Homo sapiens: one gene and its partners. The protein of the gene in region 7 purifies or fractionates together with the protein of the main gene of each other region. This does not show direct contact. Each region holds a gene or a part of one and is shown on either strand. Other genes may lie near its edges. The genes, in order: RALGPS2, DENND1A, SH3PXD2A, LPIN3, SRGAP2, MAP2K4 and SH3RF3.

Region 1 (3,500 bases), on a different chromosome or scaffold from region 7:
TTAAAGTCCATTACTACCCTAAGTATAAAAAGCCTAATGAAATCCACTTATTTGTCTCTAGAGACAAAGAAGATGGAATCTCTAAATTTAAAAAACCAAAAACCGGTGCTATAAAAATGCAACAATTTTCTCTTTGGCCAAAAGATCAGTTAAAATAAAATGGTCTTCAAACAGAACGTTTACAATTAGCTAGGGGGAAAAAAAACCAACAAAAAAACTATGGGGAATGAATTTAGAGAGTCCAAAACAGCTTAGTTTACTTAAATGTTACTTTAAAGGTAATTCTGGCTCTCAAAAAAATTAGGATGATTAATAGGTCAAGTTAAATTGTCTATCAGACAGGGTTCTAAGAAGAGAGACTCAAACTCTTTTTTACGGGCAGGGTTCTGAGAGACTCAAATTCTAATGCTGTAAGGTATCCATCAGACACCTGTAATGGATGCTGTAAGGTATCCATTAGACTCGTCTCTCTTAGAGACGATGGATTAATACCCTTCTACGGGTTTGCAATGGCACTAGTTATGTACCATCCTTGGATAAACTGAGATAACAATCACTGAAATAATTTTCTGTATTGTATGGTTCAGAAGAACCAGAGGTAACCCGTGGTGGTGGTGGGGTCTTGTACATTATCTACATTATCCTTTGATTTGTGGCACTATGTGGTAAAGACTGAAAATTTAAGCATAATTAGGATAACTTATTTGTAGAAAATGTAAGCATGAAGCTCAGAGTGAATATGCTTCTCTTAGTTAGCTAGGTGAGACTACTCAAGATTATCTAGGATAGATACCACATTAGAAAATGTTTAAGGCCATTGTTCTAAGCACTGGTTAATTTTCCCACAGTATTTTCAAAGCCTTCACTGTAGATTAATATTGCATGTAAAAGTTAAAGCTGAGGGAAAAACTCGTGTGTGTATATTAACACCTATCATCTTATGGTAATAGACTTATTCTTTTTTTCATATTGTTAAAGCTTTAAAACAAAAATCCTCGAAGGTAAATGCCTATGTGTAATGTTCTTAGTTTACAAACTAGGATGCAATGATCTTTTACTGTTTACTTACTTAGCCTTAGAATAATTAAAAAATAAACACAAATGCAAAAATCTGCTCTAAAAGAGAAAAGTCTCCACACTGAGACACTAACTGTAACTCAATAAAATAACTAAACAATAATCTTTTGGTAGCCAAAAGGACATCCATGAAAAGTAAAAGCTATAAACTACAGAATAATTCTCATTATAACACTTATGAGAAAGAGTAAAATATTATATACTTGAGAGCTGTAATTTTAAAAACTTTTTGCTTTAAGTGGCATGCCAAATTCCATGGACGTGTAGAAAATTTTTGACTGAAAAAAAGTTCTTTCTTTTGCAAAATTATTCTTCATACTGAGATTAGTATTTGCATATAGGCAACTTAGAACATTGATAAGAGGTATTTCAGGTGACAAACTTGCCTTCTTTTTAAAACATTTTATCATTTAATCACTTGTATTTTTATATAAAAAGGGGACTATCAGAATAAACAACTACTGAATGGTAATGGAGAGCTCTGAAATAATTTAATTTTAACTCTCAAGGGCTAAGAAAGTCAGTATGTTCCAGAAAATCAATCTCCTTTTGCATCTCCTTCTACTGGCTGTTTACCAATATTAAGATATTAGTAACAATAGGCTTAGTCCTTGAACAATCTGGTAGTTAATCATAGATGAAGACATATTCCTCCTTTATTTCTTTTTAAAAATAAAAGTAGCTATTATATGAACAATTTCTTTCTTTTTTTGAGACAGAATCTCGCTCTGTGATCCAGGCAGGGTAGTGCAGTGCTGCGAACATGGCTCGCTGCAACCTCTGTTTCCTGGGTTCAAATGATTCCTATGCCTCAGCCTCCTAAGTAGCTGGGATTACAGGCATGCACCACCACGCCCTGCTACTTTTTGTATTTTTAGTAGAGATGGGGTTTTGCCATGTTGGCCAGGCTCATTTTGAACTCCTGACCTCAAGAGATCTGCCCATCTGGGCCTCCCAAAGTGCTGGGATTACAGGTGTGAGCCACACTGCCCAGGCTATATGAATAATTTCTAATTGTAACAAGAAATAATGCTCATCTAGAAGACTCAAAAATTAAAAGTTTAGGAAGTAAAAACAAACAAATCCCTCTCTTAATCTCACATCCCTTTCTAATATGGTCTCTATTTTCTGCTCTCCTTCACAGTAGCTATCTCTGTTTCCTCACCTCTCATTTTCAAATCTACTCCAATCCAGGCCATGCCCTGACACTTCCATGAAGCAACTCTTATCAAGGTCACCAATGACTTTTATCTTGCCAAATCCCCCAGTCAATTCCCCATTCTCATCTTAGCTCTCTTGTTCTGCATTTGATATTCACACATTCAGTACTTTCCTCCTCCTTGAGATACTTCATCTACTGGGCTTTTGTTTTTTTCCCCTTACTTCACTGATCTCTCCTTTTTAGTTTCCTTTGATGACTCATCCTTCTTTTAAAAAATAATCAGACTTCTAAATGTGAGAATGTTTTTTTATTTATGTACACTCTCTCTTTAGGTACCCTCAACCAATCATGGCTTATAAATATGCTACCTCTCGTATATCTTCAGATCTGACCTTATCCCCGAGCTCCAGATTCACATATTCAACAACCTACCTGACATCTCCATAGGGACTAAACATGTCCAAAACACACCTGATTCCCCAAATTCACAAACGCTTCACTGCCCACAGATTATTACTCTGTCTTCTCTACCTTGGTAATAGCATCATCATCTAACTATTATACTTGTTTAACCCAAATAACCGGAAGTCATTCTTGACTCCACACTCTTCCTCCTCCCCATATCCAAATCACATGCAGTTAACTAATTCAACCAGCCCATATGTTCTTTTTCCACCTTCTTCAAATGCTTCCCCTTCTGGAGTTAAAAACAGCAAGCACTTTTAAAACCATCACAAATTATTAACTTCATCCCATATTTAACTGCTACTTTGTTTTTTTAACCAAATTTTCTCTGTGTGTGGGTGGGGTTTTTTTCCAGCCAAGTTTTATTAACATTTTTATTTAAAGTTAAATTGCAACCCTCTCAGAGAAGTATTTCTCACCTATTGATATTCCACTAGAAAGAGTAGAACTTTCAGCTTGGCCTCGAGATGGCGCATGGGGCTCCATGACGCTATCATCTAACAGATGTCTTGGTCCTGCATTTGGAAACGTTGCACTCTTAAATTCTGCTGTGTTCATTTTATGAATGAAACTAGAAACAGAAAAAAAAGTTCATATCTTTTATTATTGTTACTAATTTAAAAACTGCTCTTTATATAAAGATTTAGGACATAAAAGATTTACCTAACTGTCATACTCAGATCTTACCATAAAAGCCTCAAATGAACAGTTTAGGGAAAATGTTTTAGGAAACCTGGCCCTATCTATCTATATAATTAGAGCATACTTTAAAATAATTTCATTTTAAGCCTCGTGT
Region 2 (3,500 bases), on a different chromosome or scaffold from region 7:
GAGCAGTGTTGGCTTATGATAGCTCTGCTCCAGTTTGTTTAAAGGATCCCATTGCCAAAATACACAAAAAGTTTGCTTTTTCTTGAGGCCTGTTGTATAGCACAACTAACGTATCTCTCTGCTTTGTGATGAGACCAAGAATTGGAATGTGACTTCCTTCCAGGCCTTCTTCCTCTAATGCCTATTCCCCTCTTCCCTTTCTCCGCCACAGTGCTGTCCTCCCTGTCCCCAAAGGAGAATGTAGAGAGACTTGGAGTGGTGGAATAAAAGTCTCTTTGAAGACCAAGCTCTCCATCGTTAGTGCTCAGAGTCAGCCACTTGAATTTTCATGACTTTTCTGGAAAACATGTTGGTGCTACTCCATCACTCTTTTCTTAGCCATTGTAGTCAACTTAGAGGGCATTGTACAGCAGATAGGAAGGTTGAAACAGAAGGTAAGACCTGGAGTATTGCTCTAGGAAAGTATGTTTGCATTGAGTTATTAAATCTGTGTAAGTTCCTGGCTGGAGTTCCGGTTGCAGTTGCAAAGGTCCAGCCTTTTTCCTGGCCCTAGGGAGAGCTAATCTCTGGGTTCGTAACATCCTTTTTGCTTAAAGGGGCTTTGTAGGGACATGGAAAGATAAACAAGGAAGAAAAATAAACAAAATGAAGTTGTTTTGTTCTCTACTTTTATTGGAATCCGTACCCATTCTTTCCGAGTATTCAGGACTTGAAAAGGAGCCAAATAAAGTAAGAAAAGATATGTTAAAATACATATATGTTCCTATAGAAAAGAGAGGTGACATTCCAAAAGTTCATTTGGACGTTGGTTATGACATTTAGAATGTGTTTCCCTCTTCAAGATACTGTTATGTACAAATCAGTAACTGTTGAGGGCAAGGGCATTCCAGATATAGGGAACTGTGTATGCAAAAGTCATGGGGAGATAAAAGGTAAAGCTGAAATACAGGATATAAGGATAAAGATTACAGGAGAGGAAGTTGATGAAGTAGGCATGTGCCAGTGGGATATGATGCCATTGAAGGGTTGAACTGGGGATGTACTATGATCAGATTTGGGTTTTTAGGTAGATTACCCTGGCAGCAGCAGTTTAGAACAGTGATATCTCTGGCTTTTACAAGATGACGCATTGGAACGTGAGAATATGTTAGAAATTGTATTTATTTTTATATCAACCTTCAAAGTTTGTATTTTTTAATGTATGTGTTAGTATAGTAAGGCATTATTATAATTTATGGATATTTATCAGATGTATGCTCACTTTTTTACTGATAGGAAGAATGCATGGAAAAAAATGGGAGGCCACTGGATTGTGGAACTGTGTAAATAGTTTTTACTGCTGAAGATCAAGGTCCAGAGCAAGGTTTTGGCAGTGTAAAGAAAAGGAATGACAGGCCGGGCGTGGTGGCTCATGCCTGTAATGCCAGCACTTTGGGAGGCCAAGGAGGGTGGATGGCTTGAGTCCAGGAAGTTGAGACCAGCATGGGCAACATGATGAAACTCTGTCTTTACAAAAAAATACAACAATTAGCCAGGTGTGGTGGCATGTATCTGTGGTCCCAGCTACTTGGGAGGCTGAGGTGGGAGGATCACTTGAGCTCCCACAGAGCTCAGGAGACGGAGGTTGCAGTGAGTCAAGATCACGCCACTGCATTCCAGCCTGGGTGACAGAGTGAGACCCTGTCTCAAAAAGAAAAAAGAAAAAAAAAAAAAAGGATGGCTTTGAGAGATTTTAAGTAGAAATGACAAGACTTGGTGACAAATTACACGTAAGAGGCAAAAGAAGAATCAAAGATGACTTGCCAAGGTTAGCAGAGTTATGTTACAAATGGAGTATTTGTGAGGTGAGGACTGGTTATATGTTTGCTTTTCTGAGGAAAAGTGAAAAGTTATAATTGGGATAAGGCATTTTAGTCTGCATTGAGAATGGAAGGAATCTTTGAGGGATCCATAGTGAATGTGTGTGCTTTATTGAATGAGTAAGACTTGAAGTGGGCTGGACTAAATTGCTGAAGGCAAATCTGTTCATGGTAGATTTAGAGAGGGGGAAAAGAAAAACCACCTTTTGAATTCACTTTAGCCACAGGAAAGGTTTGAGGGTGTTGCATTGATCTCGCATAGGCTGTATGAATAAATGGAAGGAAGGAAACCAATCTAGAGAAGATACTGTTTGACTCCACGCTGGCAGTTCTTGAACTCCGGGGTGTGAGAGGAGCCAGGGGTATGTGAGCATTGGAGTACTGAGTTCCCAGAACTATACATTCTCCCTCTGAGTTCTAAATTTCTGAGCTTCAGGTTAAAAAAATAATATTTATGGAAGGAAGCTAATAAATTAACCTACAGGGTTGTTGTGATAATTAAAAGAGATATTGTGCCTAGTTCTCAGTGGAGATATGACTGCTTATTAAATGGCAGCTATCATTAATATTGCTTGGAGAGGAGAAAACACAGTTGTCTGAACAACCTGGAGTTAAAAAACAAGTTAAAAAACAGCAAGTATGTTCCTTTTTATAGTATTACAGTTTTTTTTGGTTTTGTTTTTAAAAACCAAAGTATTTGCTTCCTTTCAGTAAGAATGTTAGGATGACGTGTAGTGTATTTCACTGAATTTGTTTGAAAGATTGAGATGCTGATATATACAAAGCACTATTGCTCTTGCTGGTTGGGAAGAAAGGAAGCCTATAGTCTACTAAGACAGGTAAGATGAGCGTGCAAACAATTAGAATTATAACATTTAAGAACACTTATGTCCCCAGCCAGGCCCGGTAGCTCACACCTGTAATCTCATCACTTTGGGAGGCTGAAGCAGGCAGATCATTTGAAGTCAGGAGTTCGAGATCAGTTGGGCCAACATGGCAAAACCCCATCTCTACTAAAAAAAAAAAAAAAAATTACAAAAATTAGCTGGGCATGGTGGCGCATGCCTGTAATCCCAGCTACTTGGGAGGCTGAGGTGTGAGAACTGCTTGAACCCGGGAAGGGGAGGTTGCAGTGAGCTGAGATTGCACCACTGTACTCTAGCTTGGGCAACAGAGCAAGACCCTGTCTTGAAGTAAAAAAACCACTTAATGTTCCCTTTATCATAAATATTGGAAATCTATTCAGTTTTATAAAAGATTTATACAAATAATTTATATTTATCTCTGTTTAACTGGTACTACTTTTCAGTCTTTTTAAAGTGTTTTTTTTGTGTGTGTGTGACAGAGCCTTGCTCTTGTCGCCCAGGCTGGAGTGCAGTGGCACGATCTTGGTTCACTGCAATTACTACCTCCTGGATTCAAGCTTCCTCTGCTTCAGCCTCCTGAGTAGCTGGGATTACAGGCACCTGCCACCATGTCCGGCTAATTTTTCGTACTTTTAGTAGAGACGGATTTCTCCAGTTTGGCCAGGCTGGTCTCAAACTCCTGACCTCAGGTGATCCGCCCGCCTCGGCCTCCCGAAGTGCTGGGATTACAGGCTTGAGCCACCATGCCCGGCCTTAAAGTGATTTTTTATTCTTT
Region 3 (3,500 bases), on a different chromosome or scaffold from region 7:
CCCCTAAACTGCACTGTTCCCAGTCCCTACAATCCTGCCAGTAGACTAAGGACACGTATGAAGAAAACACTGCCCTTCTGCTGCCCCTTCCCTCCTCGTACCCTCGATGTTGCTAGGTCCTCCCTTTGAGTTCCTTGAAAGGGTCTCTAGGGTCAGAAGAGTATGGGAAGATGCAGATGAAGTGACCTGGGAGGTACAGGCCCGAGGCCAGAGCCTCTCTGCAGAGCCTTTCCCCAGGATCCACCCGCTGTGGTCATCTTACTGGAATCCCACTGAAATCCCACTAGCTGAAGAGATTTCTTTGGGTTGATTGGTTTCCTGTAGGAAGGGCAGGGGGCTTTCAGTCATTTCCATGTTAGTATAAACTGGTTTAAGGAGCTTCTTCCTTAACTTCTGGAGATCAACCAATGGCCAAAAGTGTGGCTGCTGGTTGTGCTGGGGTCCATTTGGACTGGGGAACATAAAGGGCAGATAACTGGGGATTGTGGGACACTCCTGGAGGAAAAGGTCCTGGGGTGGGGAAGGGGTAGCGTGAAAACACTGGCACTATGGGAAGAGGGCCAAGGAGGGAGGGAAAGGTGAAGAATGCAAAGGCAAGAAGAGACCAGTCCTCTGCATCCCCCACTAGAAGAGAAAGATTTTCTCCTTCTTTGGGTCCTACATTCTGTCCTTCACCCTGCCCCAGCCCTGTACCTACAGTTCAAGCACAGGTGGCTCCTGAGCCTGACAGTTCTGCCACATTATGCTCTTTACAGACTCTCCTGGAAACCTCAGTACAGAGAGAATGATTTTTCTTGGAAATTTAGTTGCAAGTTCCAGGCATGTGATTTAAAACATTCACATTGGGAATGTCACTGCTTTAGAGGCAGAGACTGCCCAATGAGTCTGACAGGTTCACTTGTATTAGATGGAGTTAACTCAATTACTACACAAAGCCACTCAGAGAATTGACTAAGTTACAGCTCTTCTCTGCTGCCGGGAATACCATGCTCAGCCCCAGCCACAAAATAGAGTGGCATGAATGCTGGAAGACATGCTGGGGGGTGGAGGGGCGTCCCAGGATCTATCACCCTGTTTTGCAGAGAGAAATGCTTAAAGTTGGGGGTGGCGGGTGAGAGAAGTGACTGCATCAAAGGCCAGGGGTCATGTGGTGTGGACTTGGCCAGAGCCCAGGTCCCCAGTATCTCAGTCTACCTGCCTGGTCCACATCCTCCTAACAACACTTCCTGATGTGGCTTCTGCAGGATCCTGGCCCTGAGATGTTCCTGGGAGAGAAAGCTTGTGGGGTTGGGCAATGCTGTCTATTCTAGACCCCTTGTAGGTGACACTCCCAGTGACATCCTTGTATCCTAGGCTCTGGGAAGCCCTGCAATTAAAACAACAAATGGGTTGGATTTTGTTTAATCCACTGTCCTGCAAGCTCATTTGACCAAAGAAGCCCTTTGTTTCAAGGCCCCCCTGTCACAAGCTCCTGCACATGCTCTGGGAAATGTTGTGAGACAAGCCCTGTGAGCTCAGGGTGGAGCGTGAGAGCTGGGATCTAGTTTAGGCCATGGCACTGGCCAGCGCCAGGCAGATGCTCATCTTTGTGGGGCTCATTTCTGTACCTTTCCTGCCTGCCTGCCCCTCAGGAATCTTACTAGCAAGGCCTAAAATGGGAAATGCAGTAGGTTTTCCACCACAATGAGTTAAAACCCTCGGCCTCATGGCCCAAGGCTTACCTCTGCCTTCTGTCCACCCCGAAAGCTGATGCCATCGGAAATGCACGACTGGAATTCGGCAATGGTGTAGTACTCCACCTCAACAGAAGGGGGCTCTGGTGGCTTTGGCAGTTGGAACCCCTAAGGTTAAGGAACACACAGTGGGCAAAACCCGCCTAAATCAGAAGAGTAACTTGGCCAAGGGTTGGTCCCCACTCAGTCCCCAGGGGGTGCGGATGGCCGTTTACACCAGCTGGACAGCAGCTGGCCTGAGTACGTATCTATCATGGGAGTCTCAGGGTATATATCGCCAGGGGACTACTCTGATGAGGCTTTCTAATAATACTCAGGACTCACGGAAGACTTGTCTGAGCTATCAAAATTCTCACATTACTATTACTATCATCATCATCATCATCATCATCATCATCATCATCATCATCATTACTCTGAGATAGGGTCTTGCTTTGGGACCCAGGCTAGAGTGCAGTGGAGTAATCAGAGCTCACTGCAGCCTCCATCTCCTGGGCTCAAGTGATCCTCCCACTTCAGCCTCCCCAGTAGCTGGGACTACAGGCACACACCACCACACCTGGTTAATTTTTTTTTTTTTTTTTGGTAGAGATGGGCTCTCTCAGGATCTGGAAGAATTTGCTAAAAAAAAAAAAAAAAAAAAAAAAAAAGCTCTCCCCCTCCCCCTCCCCTTCCCTCTCCCTCTCCCCACGGTCTCCCTCTCCCTCTCTTTCCACGGTCTCCCTCGGATGCCGAGCCGAAGCTGGACTGTACTGCTGCCATCTCTGCTCACTGCAACCTCCCTGCCTGATTCTCCTGCCTCAGCCTGCCGAGTGCCTGCGATTGCAGGCGCGCGCCGCCATGCCTGACTGGTTTTCGTGTTTTTTTGGTGGAGACGGGGTTTCGCTGTGTTGGCCGGGCTGGTCTCCAGCTCCTAACCGCGAGTGATCCGCCAGCCTCGGCCTCCCGAGGTGCCGGGATTGCAGACGGAGTCTCGTTCACTCAGTGCTCAATGGTGCCCAGGCTGGAGTGCAGCGGCGTGATCTCGGCTCCCTACAACCTCCACCTCCCAGCCGCCTGCCTTGGCCTCCCAAAGTGCGGAGAGTGCAGCCTCTGCCCGGCCGCCACCCCGTCTGGGAAGTGAGGAGCGTCTCTGCCTGGCCGCCCATCGTCTGGGATGTGAGGAGCCCCTCTGCCTGGCTGCTCAGTCTGGAAAGTGAGGAGCGTCTCTGCCCGGCCGCCATCCCATCTAGGAAGTGAGGAGCGCCTCTTCCCGGCCGCCATCCCATCTAGGAAGTGAGGAGCGTCTCTGCCCAGCCGCCCATCGTCTGAGATGTGGGGAGTGCCTCTGCCCTGCCGCCCCGTCTGGGATGTGAGGAGCGCCTCTCCCCGGCCGCGACCCCGTCTGGGAGGTGAGGAGCCTCTCTGCCCAGCCGCCCCGTCTGGGAAGTGAGGAGACTCTCCGCCTGGCAACCGCCCCGTCTGAGAAGTGAGGAGCCCCTCCGCCCGGCAGCCGCCCCGTCTGAGAAGTGAGGAGCCCCTCCGACCGGCAGCTGCCCCGTCTGGGAAGTGAGGAGCGTCTCCGCCCAGCAGCCACCCCGTCCGGGAGGGAGGTGGGGGTCAGCCCCCGCCAGGCCAGCCGCCCTGTCCGGGAGGTGAGGGGCGCCTCTGCCCAGCCGCCCCTACTGGGAGGTGAGGAGCCCCTCTGCCCGGCCAGCCGCCCCGTCCGGGAGGGAGGTGGGGGGGTCAGCCCCCTGCCCGGCCAGCCGCCCCGTCCGGGAGGTGAGG
Region 4 (3,500 bases), on a different chromosome or scaffold from region 7:
CACACTGCCCCACTGTCTGAGCCTCATTGTACTTGTCACTGTCTCGGTCTTCTTGTGTATTGCCTGGTTTCCAAGTTCTTCCCTCTGTCTCTCACATCCATAAGAATAGGGACGTGGTCTCTCTTGTGATCGCTGTGTCCCCAGCCCCCAGGTTATTGGCTGCATAAACAATGGTGGGAATTTTAGTGTACTGGCCCTTTGTGGAGTGTTTTCTATAGATTATCTCATTTAATCTCTGCAACCCCTTGCAGTAGCTCCTATCATTACCTCCACTTTACAGATGAGGAAACTGAGGCTTTGGGGGTTTGAGTAATTGGTTAGGAGGCAGCCTCACAGCAAGTGAGCTTATGAAGCCAAAAAGGCTGAGTCTACAACCCAAGCTACTAGCCTCTTAGATATACTATTTCCCATAGGCTACACTTTTCTATTAGGATCCTGGAAACGTCACAGTTGCCTCAGTGTGAATCTTGATTCACACCCTAGACCTTGCTGCTAACAAAAATCTCTGCTGTGCTTGCCTGAGCCCTGTGAAGGTGGAATGGATTTATTTATTTATTTTTATTTATTTATTTATTTTTTGAGACGGAGTTTCGCTCTTGTCGCCCAGGCTAGAGTGCAATGGCACAATCTTGGCTCACTGCAATCTCTGCCTCCTGGATTCAAGCGATTCTCCTGCCTCAGCCTCCGGAGTGGCTGGGATTACAGGTGCCCACCACCACACCCGGCTAATTTTTCTATTTTTGGTAGAGACTGGGTTTCACCATGTGGGCCAGGCTGGTCTCAAACTCCTGACCTCAGGTGATCCACCAGCGTCGGCCTCCCAAAGTGCTGGGATTATAGGCGTGAGCCACCATGCCCAGCCTGAAGTGGATTTATTAAGAGAGAGAAACTAACATTTGAGTGTTTCCCACATAGCTGGCCCTGAGACAGTATTATCAGTTGCTATTGACTTGTCCCACCAGCATCATTAGGCCGATAAAATCATATCCATTTGTGCAGGTGAAGTAACTGGGCTCAGAGGCATGAAGTGACTTACCAAGAACACACAGGTAAGGTCTTAGTAAGCTGAGCCAGGTCTGACGGCCCCAGCACTGGGATGAGCCCTACTGGTCTGTTTCCATGAGAAACTAACTGTGAACCCTCCCAGACCAAAACCCCCAAATCAACCCAAAAACCTTCAAAGAAAGTACAAATGAAGGGAAGCCTGTCCAGAGGACAGATCCCCACCTAAGGGAGGCCCCAGGTCCTGTCCTGGGACTGTAGTGGCTGCCCCAGCTTAAAAAGCCCACTCTGCAGTAGCCACCTCAGCCAGCCTGAGCACTCACCACCTTCTCCCGCGACCGCAGGACGCCCAGCTTGCCAAAACGCACGTGGAAGGGTGAGCACCGGAACGAGCCGTCCACCTGCTTCACCACCAGCACGTCAATGCCGCCGCTCAGTGTGGCTGGGTTCAGGCCCCGGTACAGCTCCTTCACCGTCCCAAACACCGTCTCCGCCAGCTGCCCCACGTAGTTCATGGCTGGTGCTGGCAAAGAAAGGCAGTGGCTTGCACAAAGGTCTGCTCCAGCTCCTCCACAAGAAGCTCCTGCAGCCTGACCACACAGACCCCCAAGTTTACATTTGTGTCACGCCTTGGAGTGCCTTTGCACAGATGGCAGCAGCTGTGCGATGGGAGGTACACCTGTAGATGTGGGTCTAACCCCAGCTTGCCCACTGCCCTGCTAAGGGACCCTTGGGCAGCCGCCTCCTTCCCCAAGTGCCGATGTCCACATCTGTAAAATAGGGCACAAGGTAAAACAATACCCAGTTGCCTCGTGCCTCTAAATGCCATGACTAATGATAATGACCACAGTGTTCCGTGGGTACGGCTCATTTCATCTTCACAACAACCCTGTGGGGCTGGCTGAGCGGGTGTCATTATTCCTGTTTACAGATGAGCCAGCAGAGGCTCAGAGAGGTGGAGTGACCTGCCCAGAGCCTCATAACTATGAAGGAGGGAACCTGAGATCTGAACCCAGGTTTGTGTGGTTCCACTGGGATGGTCCAACTGTGAAAACGGAGGGGGTGGGAAGAGGGGGCAGCCTCATTAGATAGCAGGCCCAGGGCCCTGCTGGATAATGGGTGACTGTGCTAATGAGTACTCTTCTTTTCCCAAGAAGTGGGAACGAAGGAGCCTCCACTTTTCCATCTGAGAAATGGGCTCAGCTGTCTTGCTATCTGCTGGTCCTGTGAGTTGGAAGGTGTCTTGCTGGGCGATTGTAGCTGACTTATGGGGGACCAAGGGTGGGAGCACCCCAGGTACTCAAGGCTCTGTTCAGCCCCATTCCTGGGGTCAGATGCTCAAGGCAGAGCATCCCCTATAGCTGGGGGCTTAAGGCCCCAAACTACAAATTCCTTCCCAGTTTCCCTGGTGGGAAGCCTGTCCATGCACAGCCTGACCCCAGCGGTGTCCAGGCTATAGTTCTCAGACCCCAATTTCAACCCTAACCCCAGCTCCTCAGACCAGGGCTGAGCTGGCTAGGCGCTCAGACCCACAATCAGGCCTTGGGCTGGCCTCAGCCCACTGAAGCTGCTCCCTCCCCCAGCCAGACCGGTCTCTCCAGCTTTCCCACACCAGACAGGCCTGGGTAAGCCCAAAGCAGGAGGCTGAGGCGGCCTCAGAGAAAAAACAGGGCTATGATGAGAGCCTCCTCCAAGCTGGCACAGTGCCTGCCCCAGCAGCTTCAGGTGATCACCCCTGCCCTCCTGGCCAGGCCAGTGGCCTGCTGCCCCTCTGCCTGCCAAGACCCAGACTGTCCTATCTCTACAGAGCACTTTCTTCTCTCAGACCCTGGGTCAGAACCCCTGGAGGACAGCCTGCCATGCAAGACCACTTAGCAAAGAAGCTAAGTGACTTACCCAAGGTTAAGTGACTTTACAGGTGAGGAAACTATTCAAGCTCTTCTAAGCTGACAGGCCATAGAAGGGGTATAGGGAGGGGAGAGAGGGAGTAAAGACTCATATCCAGCTCTCCTGACTCTAGAGCATGGTCTCCTTCCACTCCATGCTTCCAAACCACCCAAGAGTTGGTTGCATGGCCCATGGCCACTTCTGCACAGCCCTGCAATGCCCTGCACTCAAAATGTGGTATGCACCAGCAACAAACATCAGCATCAGCATCACCTGGGAGCTTGTTAGAAACAGAAACTTAGGCCCAACTCAGCCCTACTGAATCAGCATCTGCATATTTTTCTTTTCTTTTCTTTTCTTTTTTTTTTTTGAGACAGGATCTCACTCTGTTACCCAGGCTGGTGTGCAGTGGCACCAAAATGACTCACTGCGGCCTCAACCTCCCAGGCTCTAGTGATCCTCCTGCCTCAGCCTCCTGAGTAGCTGGGACTACAGGCATGTACCACCATAACTGGCTAACTTTTAAATTTCTTTTGTAGAGACAGGGTCTCACTATGTTGCCCACGTTGGTCTCAAACTCCTGGACTCAAGTGATCCTCCCACCTTGGCCT
Region 5 (3,198 bases), on a different chromosome or scaffold from region 7:
ACATCTGCCCCCTCCCACTTATCCTAGCTTCCTTGGAGCCAGGGCTCCCTGATCACACTGCCCTTTCTGTTTGTGATTGAAGGCAAAGGAAGCGTCCAGAATCTGGGAGCATCCGGAAAACTTTTCGGAGTGACAGCCATGGGCTGAGCAGTTCCCTGACTGACTCCTCCTCCCCAGGGGTGGGGGCTAGCTGCCGCCCATCCTCCCAGCCCATCATGAGCCAGAGCCTCCCCAAAGAAGGGCCAGATAAGTGTTCCATCAGTGGGCACGGGAGCCTCAACTCCATCAGCCGCCACTCATCCCTGAAGAATCGGCTGGATAGTCCACAGATCCGGAAGACTGCCACAGCGGGAAGGTCAAAAAGCTTCAATAACCATCGGCCCATGGACCCTGAGGTCATTGCTCAGGTAACTGTGGGCTCCTGGACAGACAGCATGAGTCTACATTCATCACTACCACTTAGTGCCACCCACCTAATTATGACAGGACTTGAAACAGAATGATTATTTTGTATGTGATATACTGAGTATATGTCCACTCTGGACATGTGGACCCAATAAGACAGCTTAATAAGTGGTCTGCCTGTCCCTCTCTCCCCAGGAAGAACCTAAAGACAGAATAAAAGAAGCCTAGCTTCTTGCTCATACACTGGCTATTAGGAAGGCTGTTGTAATTTTTAAAGCCGGTATTAAGAGTATTTTGAAAGCCCAAGTTTTGAGTCTAAAGACCTTGGTAGACTTTAGTGAAACTGCCCGACTGTTGAGGATCAGGTGTAATCCTGGCCACATGTTTATATTGCTGTGCCCATCACCATCATCCCGATTCCTAAGGCTAGTCTCTGGTACCGAATGGGTAGATGATCAATTAAGAACCTGCACCTGGTTTTAAAGACCTAAAAAATACTCTGGCTGCAGAGAGCTCTGGTAACCAAAAGGATTTGCAGCCCAAGCCTCCAGAGGCTATGGAGATGAGCTCCCTGGTTGCAGGGTCTTCCTTCTGTGTATGCACCGCACTGATGACTCTCTGTTTTCCATGAAATATTAGAGATCCAACCCCACCTCTAAAAATCCGACTACCGGGGCCACTCCAAGCAGTTCACTCAGACGTCTCTCCCAACTATATAATTTTCATTAGACCAGGTAGGAACTAAGGGCTTATTGTTGCCTTCTTATCTCAACTGAGTTGAGATTCTCCTTACCCCATCTTCCAGGGGGTGATAGAGGCTGGGCATGGTCTCTCTTGGCTTAATTGTGGTTCTCTGCTTACGGAGATGTACCTGGCAAGCCCAGTATTGAGCTACAGGCCTGAGATGTCTTGCTTTGCTAGCCTTCTATTCTGTGCCTCTATTTAAGCTCTTGGCTGCAATCTGCCTTGCGCTACGGGAATCCTCCCAGCTCCCTCCTTGGCCAGGTGTTAATAGGAATGTCAGGAAAGGTAGACAGCTGGGACAGACTAGCTGTAGAGTGCGACTGAGGAGGGAGATGGAGTTCTTCCTGAGCATTTTAAAGGTTTGAGAATGTCATAGGGATGAGTGAAACTGAATCACTGTGAACAGAAAGCATGCATCGGTCTGTACGACAAAGAAACCTTAACCAAAGGCCTTCGCTTGGAATGTGTAAAATCTTTCCATGTGAACCTAATCCCAAGAAGAAATCCTGTGGTAGTTTGGGGGTGCCAGACACAGGTTTATGGGGAGGGAGCGGGGAGCTGGGAAGTCTCACTGGAAGGCAGCTGGCTTGCATACAAAGGTTCTTTGGTTCTGCCTTGAGTCCCTGGGCTAGGACTGCTGTTGGCTAAAGATCTAGAGTGTTCCATTGATTTGCAGGCAATTGATTCACCTATGTGGGCTTTGGCTCCCCTTCCTGGTCATTCTTTTGTCCCCTTGGTGGTGATGGCTGGAAGGAAATGGTTTCAAATTGGACACTGCCCTGAGTTGGGGAGGAGGGGCGGGGGGAGGCGTATTGGGCTCCTGAAACTTTCCTCAGCCCCTGAGGAGGAAGGACTAACCCTCTTCACCTTTGGCCTTGAAGTCCAAGAGAATAAAGATCATACATCATCTCTACCACTTTTTAAAAAAGTGTTTATTATGTACAATTTCAAACCTACCCAAAAGCAGACAGAACTGGATAACAAATCCCCATGTACTCATCACCAAACTCCTGGCCATTCTTACTTTGTCCGTGTTTCTCTTCCCCACTAGATTATATGTCACTTCGTCGATAAGTATTTCAATATCTATCTCTAAAACCTAGGGTCTCTAAAAAAATATCAATTACTTTTTCTAAAGGAAAAAAAAAAATCTCATGACAGTGAAAATCCCTCCGTCCCCCTTTCCCTACTTCCTGAGCATTCATATGTTCAAAGATTTAGGCCAAGTACAATAATCTGGACATCTTACGGTCATTTTCTTCATGCCTTGGCCTGTGTTGTTGAAACCGGCTCCTTGGGGAATTCTCCCCTCATTTGCCTCACCTCCTCCTTTTTCCTGTTTTGCAGGATATTGAGGCAACAATGAACTCGGCCCTGAATGAGCTACGGGAACTAGAACGGCAGAGCAGTGTCAAACACACCCCTGACGTGGTTCTGGACACCTTGGAGCCCCTCAAAACCTCCCCAGTGGTGGCCCCCACGTCAGAGCCCTCCAGCCCTCTGCACACCCAGCTCCTCAAGGACCCCGAGCCCGCCTTCCAGCGCAGCGCCAGTACTGCTGGGGACATCGCCTGCGCCTTCCGGCCTGTCAAGTCTGTCAAGATGGCTGCCCCGGTCAAACCACCAGCCACACGGCCCAAGCCCACTGTCTTCCCCAAAACAAATGCCACTAGCCCTGGTGTCAACTCATCAACTTCCCCACAGTCTACTGACAAGTCTTGTACTGTCTGAGGGATAATAATTTAATTGTTCTAGACAAGGGGACTATAGGGACTGACTGTTATTAAAATCTTCCTATTTAACTAGCTTGGGGACTTCAGTTGAAAATTAGGTTCTAAGTTGTTCTTGCAGGAATTAGCCTCCCCGTCTCCCAAAACCTTGAGAATGAAGCCCTTGGTATCGCCTCTCCCTTCCCACTGCCCTCTGCTTCCCCCAGTCGTCGTAATTCAGCCAGCTGCAGTCCGTACCGTTCTTAGGTTAGCCAGAGACAGGTTTTCATTATCAGGTCACTGTGAAATCTGGTAAGGCAGTCCTGAGGACATGGGCTCA
Region 6 (3,500 bases), on a different chromosome or scaffold from region 7:
CTTAAGGATAAATTGATAAAAATGTATATGTAATTTATCTCCCAGAATTACTTGATTGCTGGTTTCTCTTGGGTAGTATCTGCATAAATATCTGTCTACTTATTTATTTACATTTAGAAAAGCATATATGTACACAAATAATTTTATACTTATAAAACATTTATATATTTAACTGTAGTATTCTGTGTAGCTATGCCATAATTTAGTCAATTTTCAAGAATTAATATTTTTTCTAATTTTTAACTAATCATCCTACACTGACTATCCTAGAGATAAATCTTCAGATTATAGACTCACAATTTTTTGTATGTGCTTTTACTGTGTTTAGCAGGCTGTCTGCGTTGTTACTTTGGATCTGAAGGAAAGAACTATTTCATTATTTGTAATATTTCATCTGTGAAAAGAAAAATACTTAGGCAAATGAATCTACATTTTAATAATGTTATTTTTATGTTATTTTAGCCTTACGAAGGATGAATCCAAAAGGCCAAAGTATAAAGAGCTTCTGGTGAGTGTGGGACTGTGGGGATTGTAGGTACATCCTAACCCCGGAACTCTCTTAACATGCTGGTTCACTAAGCAAGCAGTGGGCCTCTCTGTCATAAACAAACATCTCAAATTTATTGAGTGTTTTTTGTTAATGTTTTTACACAAAGATTTGGAAAGAGAAAATTTGCAGTTATAATTTTTCTACTAATACTAGCTAAATTCTCATGGAAAATTTTGGTCTTAACATGTTATAAAAATTACCCCCAAAGAATTCTGACTTTAAGAAGCCATTTTCCACTGCATAGTCTATTTATATGGGATGCAGCCATAAGAAAAAAATTAGTGAAAATTTGTGTTTATTCTGCCTTTATAAAATTCATGCAAATTTACGTCATATAGCCTATTCCCATTTCTTTGAAAGTTCTCATTCATCCCATGGAACTTGGGTGTTTTAAGCAGTCTACTGGGTATGGCATTGGTGGGGCAGGGAGAAAGTGTTGTGATCTAATAATGTGGGAATATTTTAAGAAAAGATCCATTTGTTTGTCACATTTAACTACTAGCTCTTCAAGGATGTTGTGACAAACTTATATCACAGTCCACCAATGACTGTAAAAATATCTAGTCAACATACTTAGTCTGTAAAAGAAAACTGTTGCTAGAGATGGAGTTTTAAAAGGTGGGTTAGTGAAGCAGATACTGGGACCCTGGCTCTGGAGAGTACAGGGAAGAAGCTCCTGGGGCAAATTTCTCTTGGGCCTCTTTTGGTCAAAAGAATTACAGCCTTTTTGTTAAAAGGTCAAAAGAAGAGGTCAAAAGGATTGCGACCTTTTTGTAAAAAGGTCCTCCTGTTGTATATAGGAGAAATGGAGGTTGAGATTTATATTGGTGTCCCAAGAGGAATAGTGACTGGCATTTGCGTCATTCTTCTTAGCTCTTAGATGGTGTGGTGGAGGCTCCAGCTATGTTTTGTGCTGAGTGACAACTTGGCTGTCTTCCTCAACAAACACTCCCTGGTATACAGATGAGTTTCCAGACCTCACTGCCAAGGTGGCACCTTCAGATCATTACCACGTATCCTCTCTCTAGGCATGCCCATGCCCATTAGCATATCTGCATGGAATAAAGGCTGTACTCGCCTCTCTGAACTTGTAGTGTTGCGGTATTTCATAGCTATGTGTGGTTGGGAGCCTGGAGTTCTATGTTCTATAGAAATTGGAAAATGTTCAGTTTGGGCTGTCATACAAACTTTTGACTTTTTTGTTTTCAATTTTCTTGCAGAAACATCCCTTTATTTTGATGTATGAAGAACGTGCCGTTGAGGTCGCATGCTATGTTTGTAAAATCCTGGATCAAATGCCAGCTACTCCCAGCTCTCCCATGTATGTCGATTGATATCGCTGCTACATCAGACTCTAGAAAAAAGGGCTGAGAGGAAGCAAGACGTAAAGAATTTTCATCCCGTATCACAGTGTTTTTATTGCTCGCCCAGACACCATGTGCAATAAGATTGGTGTTCGTTTCCATCATGTCTGTATACTCCTGTCACCTAGAACGTGCATCCTTGTAATACCTGATTGATCACACAGTGTTAGTGCTGGTCAGAGAGACCTCATCCTGCTCTTTTGTGATGAACATATTCATGAAATGTGGAAGTCAGTACGATCAAGTTGTTGACTGTGATTAGATCACATCTTAAATTCATTTCTAGACTCAAAACCTGGAGATGCAGCTACTGGAATGGTGTTTTGTCAGACTTCCAAATCCTGGAAGGACACAGTGATGAATGTACTATGTCTGAACATAGAAACTCGGGCTTGAGTGAGAAGAGCTTGCACAGCCAACGAGACACATTGCCTTCTGGAGCTGGGAGACAAAGGAGGAATTTACTTTCTTCACCAAGTGCAATAGATTACTGATGTGATATTCTGTTGCTTTACAGTTACAGTTGATGTTTGGGGATCGATGTGCTCAGCCAAATTTCCTGTTTGAAATATCATGTTAAATTAGAATGAATTTATCTTTACCAAAAACCATGTTGCGTTCAAAGAGGTGAACATTAAAATATAGAGACAGGACAGAATGTGTTCTTTTCTCCTTTACCAGTCCTATTTTTCAATGGGAAGACTCAGGAGTCTGCCACTTGTCAAAGAAGGTGCTGATCCTAAGAATTTTTCATTCTCAGAATTCGGTGTGCTGCCAACTTGATGTTCCACCTGCCACAAACCACCAGGACTGAAAGAAGAAAACAGTACAGAAGGCAAAGTTTACAGATGTTTTTAATTCTAGTATTTTATCTGGAACAACTTGTAGCAGCTATATATTTCCCCTTGGTCCCAAGCCTGATACTTTAGCCATCATAACTCACTAACAGGGAGAAGTAGCTAGTAGCAATGTGCCTTGATTGATTAGATAAAGATTTCTAGTAGGCAGCAAAAGACCAAATCTCAGTTGTTTGCTTCTTGCCATCACTGGTCCAGGTCTTCAGTTTCCGAATCTCTTTCCCTTCCCCTGTGGTCTATTGTCGCTATGTGACTTGCGCTTAATCCAATATTTTGCCTTTTTTCTATATCAAAAAACCTTTACAGTTAGCAGGGATGTTCCTTACCAAGGATTTTTAGCCCCAAATCTCTCATATTCGCTAGTGTTTAAAAGGCTAAGAATAGTGGGGCCCAGCCGATGTGGTAGGTGATAAAGAGGCATCTTTTCTAGAGACACATTGGACCAGATGAGGATCCGAAACGGCAGCCTTTACGTTCATCACCTGCTAGAACCTCTCGTAGTCCATCACCATTTCTTGGCATTGGAATTCTACTGGAAAAAAATACAAAAAGCAAAACAAAACCCTCAGCACTGTTACAAGAGGCCATTTAAGTATCTTGTGCTTCTTCACTTACCCATTAGCCAGGTTCTCATTAGGTTTTGCTTGGGCCTCCCTGGCACTGAACCTTAGGCTTTGTATGACAGTGAAGCAGCACTGTGAGTGGTTCAAGCACACTGGAATATAAAAC
Region 7 (4,300 bases):
GCCAGGCGTGGTGGCGCACCTGTAGTTTCAACTATTCAGGAGGCTGAGGTGAAAGGATGGCTTGAGCCCAAGAGTTTGAGGCTGCAGTGAGCCGTGATAGCACCCCGCGCTCTAGCCTGCCTGACAGAACGAGATCCTGTCTAAAGCTATGGAAGTAAATATAAATAAATAAAATAATTATCTGGCAGAGCTGTTTAGAGGATTAAATAATATATAGCACGCTCTTGGCCTTTTAGCCTCAACAAATACTACTTTTTTCCTTAATAATAACAGAAAGATCATACAACTTCACAAACCACAAGGACAGGCTGGCCGATAGGCAGGCCCCCCACGACTCTTCTGATGTTAGCCCTGACTGAACTCGCTGTGCAGCGTCCAACCAATCCTGGTTTGTGCTGGGCCCTGGACTGGAACCCAGCCCTTCCCGACGGGAACGCAAAGCGGCCACGAGGGGGCAGCGCACGGCAGGGAATCTTCGCCGCCGACCCCAGCCCACCGCCAAACTTCCCTGCTGCTCTCGGTCCTCCTGTACGTACTTCCGTTGCTCTGACGCTCCCAGAAGCCGGGGCGTCGGGAAGGAGAGCGCGAATTCACCCTCCTCTGCGCCTCCGTAGGAAAAAATTGGAGCGGGGGTTCACGAGACTGCGCCGCGGCGGGCGCTAGAGCCCCTCGCACAGCGTCGCCAAGGGTGCGGCGTGGAGCCGGGCGCCTGGCGCCAGGGTGCTGGTCGGCGGGCAGCGGCGCCAGCCTCCGACCCGCGACTCCGGCGAGCCAAGGCTGCGCCGGGAGGAGTCGGCGCGGGCCCCGGGGTGCCCCCTTCAACTGGAGCGCCTTCCCCTCCTGCCTTGCGGCGCATCCCCACACCTACACCGGAACGAAGCTCCGGGGCTGTCACTTCTGCGCGCTTCTCGGAAAGGAGTCTGAACTGGGAGCGCTCCGGGGGGTCGTCGGGGAGGATGCCCGGGCGTCGGCTGTGTCCCCAAGCTGCTCGCCGGCGCTGGCGAGGAAGGCAGTCGGGATAACGCCGCCCAAACTTTCCTTCGCAGCAGCGTTGGCAGGAAACGTCCCTCTCTGAGGCTCACGAAAAGCCGAAAAAGACTCGGACGCTTGGAGGAGGCAGGGCCAAGCCTGCGCAGGAGAGGTTCCCCGGAGCCCTGGAGATGTCCTAGGGGACCAGGCTAATCGCCGGCTTGCGCCCAAGCGAAGGGAAGTCCTGCAGGCACGGCGCCTCCTTCCCTGAGCCCCGCAGTGACCGTGACCTCCGCGCGCACCCCCGCGCACGTGCTCGCGGCCGAGGAAGAGGAACGGTCCTGCTGAATCCTCTGGAGGACAGCGACTAGCGAGCAGGCCAGGGGCGCATGGAGGTGCCGCGGGGGCGGTGCGGCTCGCCAGCTGCGCGGAGGAGCGTGCACGCCGCGCCCCGGCCTCCCCGGGGACCTGGCCGGCCGCTGCCCGCACTTCCTGCCGCTGGTCTCCCAGGCGCGAGCCGCCGCTTGCAGCACAGAACCCGTTGAGCTTCGTGCCCGGCAGCACCCCCGGTCCCCCGCGCGGGGCGGACTTGCGGCGGGACAGGTGTAGCCCGCAGCCGCAGGCGCTGCGCTCAGGACTGGGCGGGCTCGGCTGGCCGGTCCCCGCCACGCAGGCCGGTCCCCGCCACGCAGGCCGGTCGGTGAGCCACTTCGCACCGCCACAGCCCTAGCATCGGGCCACCAGCCGGGGTGAAGAAAGTCACGGCGGAGCCCGGCTCCCCAGTCCTGATGCTGGCTGCCGGTGGCGGGCTCCACGCCGGCCCCGGGACCTAGGCAGCCGCGCGAGACCGCTGCGGGCGCCTCCCCCATGCTGCTCGGAGCGTCCTGGCTGTGCGCATCCAAGGCGGCCGCCGCTGCTGCGCAGAGCGAGGGCGACGAGGACAGGCCAGGCGAGCGACGGCGGCGTCGGGCGGCGGCCACCGCCGCGGGGGCGGGCGAGGACATGGACGAGTCGTCGCTGCTGGACCTGCTGGAGTGCTCCGTGTGTCTGGAGCGCCTGGACACCACGGCCAAGGTGCTGCCATGCCAACACACTTTCTGCCGCCGCTGCCTGGAGAGCATCGTGTGCTCGCGCCACGAGCTGCGCTGCCCCGAGTGCCGCATCCTGGTGGGCTGCGGCGTGGACGAACTGCCCGCCAACATCTTGCTGGTGCGACTGCTGGACGGCATCCGTCAGCGGCCCCGCGCGGGCACCAGCCCCGGCGGCAGCCCGCCCGCGCGTCCCATCCCAGGCCAGAGTGCGGCCCCCACGCTCGCGGGCGGCGGGGGCGGCGCGGCAGGCAGCACCCCGGGTTCCCCGGTTTTCCTCTCCGCGGCCGCGGGCAGCACCGCCGGCAGTCTGCGGGAGCTGGCGACCAGCAGGACCGCGCCGGCGGCAAAGGTGAGTATCTGTCTCGGCGGAAGTGGCCACGGCACGTGGGAGTGTGTGGGTGGGTGCTTGGGCGTGGGGGGCAGTGATGAGGTGCGGAGGAGACCACGGGTGGTCCTGCGTTGGCCCACTCCGCTGTTGCTCTTCCTCCAACTTCGCTTGCTTGGTGGCGGCATCCGGCCCCTGGGCAGCTCGCCGCTTGTTCACGTGTGTCCCATCCTCCTGTGGAGTGGGCACGCCTTCCTGTCCCGTCGCTCACCCCCGATTCCTTGGCCGGACTTGTTACCCTGCCTCTTAAACTTAGCATCGCCCTTGCGTCTCCCTAGAAACGGGGACCTTCTTCCTCTGGGTCCCCAGACACTCCCTCTGCACACCCTGGGCCTGCCTAGAGAAAAGTTAGCCCTTAACGTTTCTGACAGGGCTCTGATGGCTGCTCTGGGAAGCCCGCGGGCCTCCTGCCTGCGGTGTGGCTAAGGAGGGGAGGGCAGAAGGCAGAGTGGGACTGGGGTTTGGAGGAATGCTTCTAGTAGTCTGGAAGGAGTTAATCTGGAGGCCCCAGGAGCCTTTTGACCCAGCCCTTTTGGACTTGGCAGTGTCTAACCAGAAGCCAAGGTCTTCTCCTGGGCTCCCAGGCAGGGTTGCATTCCCACGGGGGTCATTTATATTTATTATTATTATTTTTGGTACAGCCGCATTTTAGGGCCTTCGCTGCTTCTGTTTTAGACGAAAGATCTTCTCTGGATGGCTTCAATGATTTGGTTTTAAAAGCTTCTTACAGCTTCTTATTACACACCCTTGCCACCTTGTGAACAGTTACCAGGAGAGAGGGCATGGGATGCTGGTTTAAATGAGAAAAGAAAGGACCCGGGTTTTGTTAATTTCTTTAAATGGAGAAAAGCACTTAAATGTTAAAAAAAATACATTATCTATTGGAATAATCATTTGCTTTAGAAACACAACTTTATTCCTCTACTTTTGACCATTTAAGGAGTTGGTGATGCCTAGTCCTTCCACTATGTGTAATCCTGAAATGCTGGGAACATTCTAGCACCTGGATTAGGCAGTACTGCAAATCTCTAAGGTTAAGGTTAGGAACTTAAACCCTTGGATGTTGAGCTTGAGTTAAATGCCATACTTTGCTGCAATGGGTTTTTTTTTCTATGGATCAGGAAGAATGGGGACAGTCAAGGATAGTCACTGGGGGTCACTTGGGGGGCACTGCTGAAGGGGAATTTTTTTCTTTGGTTTTAATTGTGATTAAATCCAGCTAAATGCTTGCGTTAGAAATTTTCAAACTTTTCCTTCCTGGCCTTGCTGTTTTTGATGTAAGGTATTTATAATTAAATATCTTTATTTGCAGAATAAGTGGGTTACCTTCTTCTGTTCTGATAAATTATGTGATATTCGGAGCCCCGCTTCTAGTAAAACGCTGGGACATTCTGATGACCATCTGTTTACAGATGTCCTCTCAGTTTATCTTGGGGGACTTTGTGTTTGACCAGGAGGTTAGGAGGTAACCTCTGACATGTGACAGGCTGAAGCTTTGATGCCACTCCGGGAATTCTGTGGCATTTGTAGTACCTTTTAGAACTTGTCAAAGGGGTTGAAGCTTGGAACTTTTTAGTAGTGACATTTAGTATTAGCAGGAAATTGATGTTTTACTCACCATATGTTGAGACCCTTGGTTGACTTTCTTTATGGGTGCATAGTCATGTTCATGACTTTTTGTGTTTTTGGGATGTTTCTGGATGTTGTTTAATAGACGAGCACTTATTTAACTAATAAGCAGGAGTCCCGCATGGTGTATTCACACTACACTAGCACTATACTACCATGCTGGGATAATAGCATTAGGTCCAGCACATGCTTCGGGAGTGGGAAGGATTGTAATAGCATATCAGGC

What was found.
Region 1: the proteins of SH3RF3 (region 7) and RALGPS2 purify together in Homo sapiens (affinity purification with mass spectrometry, with the first as the bait; one large-scale study listed by BioGRID). This does not show direct contact.
Region 2: the proteins of SH3RF3 (region 7) and DENND1A purify together in Homo sapiens (affinity purification with mass spectrometry, with the first as the bait; one large-scale study listed by BioGRID). This does not show direct contact.
Region 3: the proteins of SH3RF3 (region 7) and SH3PXD2A purify together in Homo sapiens (affinity purification with mass spectrometry, with the first as the bait; one large-scale study listed by BioGRID). This does not show direct contact.
Region 4: the proteins of SH3RF3 (region 7) and LPIN3 purify together in Homo sapiens (affinity purification with mass spectrometry, with the first as the bait; one large-scale study listed by BioGRID). This does not show direct contact.
Region 5: the proteins of SH3RF3 (region 7) and SRGAP2 purify together in Homo sapiens (affinity purification with mass spectrometry, with the first as the bait; one large-scale study listed by BioGRID). This does not show direct contact.
Region 6: the proteins of SH3RF3 (region 7) and MAP2K4 purify together in Homo sapiens (affinity purification with western blotting, with the first as the bait; one study listed by BioGRID). This does not show direct contact.

Annotation. Positions count from the first base shown.
Region 1 is NC_000001.11:178,885,744-178,889,243, reverse strand, and holds part of RALGPS2 (ras-specific guanine nucleotide-releasing factor RalGPS2), read right to left. Parts: intron 3,276-3,500; coding exon 3,124-3,275; intron 1-3,123. UniProt on the Homo sapiens protein: Guanine nucleotide exchange factor for the small GTPase RALA. May be involved in cytoskeletal organization. May also be involved in the stimulation of transcription in a Ras-independent fashion.
Region 2 is NC_000009.12:123,920,127-123,923,626, reverse strand, and holds part of DENND1A (DENN domain-containing protein 1A), read left to right. Parts: intron 1-3,500. UniProt on the Homo sapiens protein: Guanine nucleotide exchange factor (GEF) regulating clathrin-mediated endocytosis through RAB35 activation. Promotes the exchange of GDP to GTP, converting inactive GDP-bound RAB35 into its active GTP-bound form.
Region 3 is NC_000010.11:103,604,077-103,607,576, forward strand, and holds part of SH3PXD2A (SH3 and PX domain-containing protein 2A), read right to left. Parts: intron 1,842-3,500; coding exon 1,722-1,841; intron 1-1,721. UniProt on the Homo sapiens protein: Adapter protein involved in invadopodia and podosome formation, extracellular matrix degradation and invasiveness of some cancer cells. Binds matrix metalloproteinases (ADAMs), NADPH oxidases (NOXs) and phosphoinositides.
Region 4 is NC_000020.11:41,343,821-41,347,320, reverse strand, and holds part of LPIN3 (phosphatidate phosphatase LPIN3), read right to left. Parts: intron 1,526-3,500; 5' UTR 1,518-1,525; coding exon 1,326-1,517; intron 1-1,325. UniProt on the Homo sapiens protein: Magnesium-dependent phosphatidate phosphatase enzyme which catalyzes the conversion of phosphatidic acid to diacylglycerol during triglyceride, phosphatidylcholine and phosphatidylethanolamine biosynthesis therefore regulates fatty acid metabolism.
Region 5 is NC_000001.11:206,458,541-206,461,738, forward strand, and holds part of SRGAP2 (SLIT-ROBO Rho GTPase-activating protein 2), read left to right. Parts: intron 1-82; coding exon 83-407; intron 408-1,044; coding exon of another isoform or gene 1,045-1,134; exon of another isoform or gene 1,135-1,139; intron 1,140-2,496; coding exon 2,497-2,880; 3' UTR 2,881-3,198. UniProt on the Homo sapiens protein: Postsynaptic RAC1 GTPase activating protein (GAP) that plays a key role in neuronal morphogenesis and migration mainly during development of the cerebral cortex. Regulates excitatory and inhibitory synapse maturation and density in cortical pyramidal neurons.
Region 6 is NC_000017.11:12,139,377-12,142,876, forward strand, and holds part of MAP2K4 (dual specificity mitogen-activated protein kinase kinase 4), read left to right. Parts: intron 1-462; coding exon 463-508; intron 509-1,770; coding exon 1,771-1,884; 3' UTR 1,885-3,500. UniProt on the Homo sapiens protein: Dual specificity protein kinase which acts as an essential component of the MAP kinase signal transduction pathway. Essential component of the stress-activated protein kinase/c-Jun N-terminal kinase (SAP/JNK) signaling pathway.
Region 7 is NC_000002.12:109,127,705-109,132,004, forward strand, and holds the start of SH3RF3 (E3 ubiquitin-protein ligase SH3RF3), read left to right. Parts: upstream 1-1,500; 5' UTR 1,501-1,836; coding exon 1,837-2,409; exon of another isoform or gene 2,410-2,415; intron 2,416-4,300. UniProt on the Homo sapiens protein: Has E3 ubiquitin-protein ligase activity.